Regions from separate parts of the Homo sapiens genome. Here region 2 is linked to region 1. Evidence: fine-mapped expression QTL. Tissue or cell type: whole blood. Region 1 holds a variant in brackets; the other region holds the start of a gene. All regions are shown on one strand. Distances are from middle to middle.

Region 1 (2,678 bases):
CTCCCGCTTTTCACTCCTGCCCTTCCCTCAACTCTTTCTGGGCCTAGATCCTTCTCATCCTTCAGGTCTCAGCTCAGAGTCTTCCCCCCGAGGCCCTCCCTGACCACTCTCTCTGGAACAGTCTCCAGGGAGCACCTTGCTCAGAGGGTTCTGAAATCATCTTGTCCAGGTGTGTGGTCATGCGTTCAGGGTCTGTCTCCCTCCACTAGAATGGATGCCCCTCTTGTGGAGGCGCGGGGGTGGCACTTGGCCTACATCCCCAGCTCCCAGCATGACACTTGCTGTGTACGAGGCACATAACTGCCTGTTGGGCGATGAAAAGGAAGAGGAGGCTGATCTCAAAGGGTCCTTCCTGCAGGCAGAGAAGACTCTGGAATTTCTATGCACCTGCACTATGTGTTTGGAGTGGGGCTGGGTGGGCATGTGGAGAGTGTAGGGGAGTCATTTCCTCCTCCAGCCACCCTTGGCACCACTGCTCCTCCACCTCCCCACCTGTGCTCCTTTGTTCAGACAGTGCCCCCCACCAGAACCATGTCTCCCCTCTCTGTGACTGCCGAACTGCTCCTCATTCCTCAGGGCCCAGCTTGGACCTCACTTTCTCTAGGGCACCTTCTAGGACCCTCCCTAGGCTGGTTTAGGGCCCCTGCTTTGTCATCTCCAAGCCCCTGCCCTCCCCCATCTGGGCCCTGATCACACTGTGTGGTCGACAGCTGTTTACTTTTGTGGCTCTCCATTGGTTTTCAGCTCCTGAGAGTGGTATCTGTCTTGTTTACTCCTGTATCTCAGTAGCAAAGGGTTAATGAGCAGCTGCAGAGTAGACTTGGGAAGAATGCTGGATGAGGGTTCAAGGAAGGAGGGATCCTTGGCCTGACCCCTCCTTGCTGGTCACTGGGATGGAAAGTGTTGGGGGTGAAGGTCTCCTGGACACTGAACTTCTAGGCTGCCCCTTCCCATTCCAGGCTCTTGGGGACTTTCAGAAGGTTCTTGGACCGTCAAGGAGCTGCCATCCTGGTAGTGCTGCAGCTACCTGCCTGCCCCAGTACTGCACCAGGCTGCAGTCTCCGTTCCACACTGTGACCACACTCCATACACTATTTTGCCCCAATGCCCTTGGCAATGCACACCCTTGCCTGCCAGCCCCCTTGCTTGCTGCTCCACATGGACTTGCTGGCCATGGCATGTGGCTATTCCCCCTGTGCCAGGTTGGTGGTGTGTCTCCTTCCCATCTGCAGTTTCTCGGTACTCATGGCAGGAAAACACTGCCAGTTTCCAGAACCGCAGTGATTCAGCCTGTGGGTCACTAATATCACTCCCACCCTGGTGAGTCATGTGGTGGTTGTCTTGGCATCTGGAGTCCCAGGACAAACAACACCCTCCCCT[GTCC/G]TCCTTTCTGCCCCTTGCTTGCACCCTGGACCTTGGCATGAGTCAGGCGGGCATTCCCCAGGGAGATTCCGGCCTCTACCCCATGCCCTGGTGACTGAAGGCAACTCACCCATGCAATGGCCATTTTCCTGCTGGGAGAATCCTTGGCCACACTGTAAGGTGGGCAGAAGCAGAGACATGAGTGAGTTGAGAAGGTCCCATCCCAGGTTCCCTCCTAGTCACAGCCACAGAGTAGTTGTCACCCTAACCACAGTGTGAGGCATGCTCTGAGCTCTGGGCCTGGGGGGAGCCCCCTCCCTTGTAAGACCCTTCCTTTGCGCTGAGAACAGAAGGCTGGCGGGAAGGCCATGAATGGATACGGTTCAGACTCTTGCTCATTTCCCTGTGCAAAGGATCCACACGAGCTGGGACGTCTAACAGAACCTGTCCCTTCTGTAGCATCACCCTGTGACTGAGGCTGGGTCTGTCAGGGCAAAGTGTAATGAGGGCTGGGAGATGCTTTTTGAGGTGTCTGCTCACTGCCCACATTCACTTCTCCAAGAACCTCTCCCTCACACGGGTGGGTGCCTGCAGCCATGCTTGTGTCCCACCTCTCTGGCCAGGGCTGATGGGTGGACATCCTAGCAGGAGGGAAGACTCAAGGCTTTGCAGCAAGAATTTGAACAAATTGACTCAGAGACTTAAGAGTTGGGAGCCGGCCCTGCCAGGCTGTGGAGGCTCTACCATGCCCATATGGGGGTCTCAGAGACAGCAGCCTGGGGTGGGGCAGGGGACTAAAAACGTAACACACATGACACAAAATGTCAATCAACCGTACTGATGAATGAGGTGGGTGGATGGGGATTGTTGGGGAAGAGGGGCCCCTCTCCTCCCAAAGCCAGTGCACTGACAAAGGTCCTTGAGCTCCTAGGGCTGAGGCCATCAAGCTGCCAGTTTCTACTCATCCTGAGCTTCCCTGAGTTTTATGAGTGATCCTCCTTATAAGCCCCCTTCATTTGTGTCAGTTTCAGTGGGTTCCTGTTAATCGCCACCAAGTGAACCCCATCAGAGTTGGAACGACACTGCTGAGATGGGTCCAGAGCTGCTCCTCAAAGAGCCTCCAGAAAACCTGGTGCAGGCTCTGAGCCCCACCCTAGGGCAATAGGAGGTCTTGTCAGAGACTCAGAAAGAACCAGGAGGGCAGCAACAGACCTGGGGTCATTTTAAAACTTTGCTCACAACTGGCTGTACAGCCTTGGTGGGCCTTGGTGGATTTCCTCTCTTAACCTCAGTTTTCTTCCTCTGTAAAATGGGTG
Region 2 (2,678 bases), 170 kb before region 1:
GAGGGATGGTCCAACTGGGGGCCTAGAAGAGCAGCCTCAGAGGCTGGACCAAAAGGAAGCAGCATTTAAACTGAGCCTTGAAGGATAAATAGGAGTTTTGCTGTCAAGTGGGGTGTGGGAATGAGGGCATTCTGAGCTTACTTGGGAAATTTGGAAAGGATTAGTGGGTTGTATGCTGGGTGACAGCATGGGACAGGGAAGGAAGTGGCAAGCCAGGAAGTTGGAAATTGGTTGGGGACAAATTGTGAAATAGGCCACACAGAAGAGACAGCTTCTGTCCTGTCTCAGTAGGGGAAGCAGTGTAACAAACATCAGGTCTGTCTTTTAGAAAGATGTCATGACCTGGCTTGGTGGTTCACGCCTGTAATCCCAGCACTTTGGGAGCCAAGGGGGACAGATCACTTGAGGTCAGGAGCTCGAGACCAGCCTGGCCAACATGGCAAAGCCCTGTCTCTACTAAAAAAAATACAAAAATTAGCTGGGTGTGGTGGCACTCGCGACTGTAGTCCCAGCTACTTGGGAGACCGAGGCAGGAGAATCACTTGAGGCCGGGAGGCGGAGGTTGCAGTGAGCAGAGATTGCTCCACTGCCCTCCAACCTGGACGACAGAACAGTACTCTACCCCACCGCCCCCCACCCCCCCCCCCACAAAAAAAAGGAAAAAGAAAAAAGAAAGATGCCATGGGCACAAAGGTTGAGCATGAAGGAGAGAAGAGAGACTGGTGGTAGTTACCAGCTTCCTGGTCTGAACCCAGGTAGGCTTCATTCCTCCTCAGCAAAATGAGGGGAGTTGCGTGTATCTCTGTGGTTGTTTTGAGGGTTAAATGAGAACTCAGGTAAAGCGGTGGCACGGAATAATAATAATGTAAAGCATCGTTAGCCTCCATCACAGGCAGTTCGGCCTAGTAGTTAAGTCCGTGGGCTTTGCTTCCTCTTGGCCCTGGGTTTGTGTCCCAGCCATGTTAGGTAGCGTATTTTGAATGTGGGCAAGACAGAAGGATGGCAAGGAAGGGTTGGATAAAAGAGGGTGTGGACAATAAGCTTGTGCCGAGTGGAACGAGTGGCGGTGCCTCTGGTGGGTGATGGACTCTTACTCCGACATGGGTAACTCGGACAGCTTTGGACAGGACGAGGCGGGCCCTGGCAGGAGACTGCGGATGTCCAGGTGACAGTGGATGCCAGTTCAAAACCAGCACTGCTCTCCTCCCGCGCCCAGGAAGAGCCCAGAGGCCCGGGGTGGGCGCTATGGCAGGAAAGAGGGAAAAGGAGGAGGCAGGGCGGGCAGGGGCGGCCCCAGATGTGGCAAACTTGGCGCAGCAGCGCACGGGCGGACAGGGCGGAAGGCCCGCGTCGGGCTGGGAGATGCGCCCTGCCCTGGCCCGAGGACGAAGGAATCCGAGCTGGGGGCCTGGCGCAGAGGGGAAAGGGGGGCGCCAGGGTGGTGAGCGAGATGGAAAGAGAGATGGCAGGAAGCCGGGAGGAGCGCGCGGGGGAGGAGACAGCCGAGGGGAAGGGGAAGGGAAAGGGGCGGGTGGGAAGGGTGGAGAGCTGGAGACAGAAGGCGAGGAGGGCCGAGGGGAGGAGAGAGGAGAGGAAGGGTGGGGAAAGGAGGAGAGGAAGAGAGGACTAAGAGGGGAGCAAGGCGAGGAGGCCGCGGCGGGCGCAGCGGGCACCTGGGCCGTGCTGCCCCCGCGAGCAAGGCGCCGCCATTCCGCTGCTCGGGGCGCCGCCGCCGCCGCCACCGCGCCCAGGGGCCATGCTCCCGCCGCCCCCGCGCCAGCCGCCGCCCCAGGCGCGTGCGGCCCGCGGCGCGGTGCGCCTGCAGCGGCCCTTCCTGCGCAGCCCGCTGGGCGTGTTGCGGCTGCTGCAGCTGCTGGCCGGCGCTGCCTTCTGGATCACTATCGCCACCAGCAAGTACCAGGGCCCCGTGCACTTCGCGCTCTTCGTGTCCGTGCTCTTCTGGCTGCTCACCCTGGGCCTCTACTTCCTCACGCTGCTGGGCAAGCACGAGCTGGTCCCCGTGCTGGGCTCGCGCTGGCTCATGGTCAACGTGGCGCACGATGTGCTGGCGGCCGCGCTCTACGGCGCCGCCACCGGCATCATGAGCGACCAGATGCAGCGCCACAGCTACTGCAACCTCAAGGATTACCCGCTCCCCTGCGCCTACCACGCCTTCCTGGCGGCCGCCGTCTGCGGCGGCGTCTGCCACGGCCTCTACCTGCTTTCGGCGCTCTATGGCTGCGGGCGTCGCTGCCAGGGCAAGCAGGAGGTGGCGTGAGGCCGCCCGCGCCCGCCGCGGCCCCGATCGGGGCGGGGGAATCCCCGGAGACCAGCCTCCTTAATCCCTTCCCCCGCCGCCGCCCCGCGCGGGTGCGCCCTGGCACCCTCTCCCTGCCCTCCAGCGTTTCCACTGTCGCCCGCGCCCGGGAACCCTGACGCTCAGCTCCCGCCCGACGGCAGCGCCGCCGCCGCCCAGAATCCCAGCCCAGAATCCCGACCGCCGCGCCGGACGCGCCGTCTCCCGGGACAAGCGCAGGCTGCGATCCGAGGGGCTGACACACACTCGCAGACGAGCCGCCCCGAGGCGAAACCTCGCGGTTCCTCTTCCCTTCCCTGCTGAGACTAAGACGTGGACAGGGGCCGCGCAGATCCGGGGGAGGCTCCCAAATTGGAACCAG

The links. PIP is the estimated chance that this variant, and not a neighbour inherited with it, causes the effect.
Region 2: MARVELD1 starts here. The variant in region 1 is fine-mapped to the expression of MARVELD1 in whole blood (TOPMed, PIP 0.93).

The regions. Positions count from the first base shown.
Region 1 is chr10:97,881,294-97,883,971 of GRCh38, forward strand. CRTAC1 (cartilage acidic protein 1) reads right to left here. Exons shown (of 15, transcript NM_018058.7): 13 at 1,493-1,535. Among named protein-coding and RNA genes, the nearest start is that of MIR3085, 6.7 kb to the left of the region's middle. RefSeq lists an enhancer at 711-1,910 and a silencer at 1,199-1,493. The variant GTCC/G (reference allele first, on the strand shown) is at 1,381.
Region 2 is chr10:97,712,121-97,714,798 of GRCh38, forward strand. MARVELD1 (MARVEL domain containing 1) reads left to right here and starts at 1,610. Exons shown (of 2, transcript NM_031484.4): 1 at 1,610-2,678. The coding sequence starts at 1,757. The coding sequence ends at 2,278. RefSeq lists an enhancer at 1,922-1,971 and a silencer at 2,282-2,501.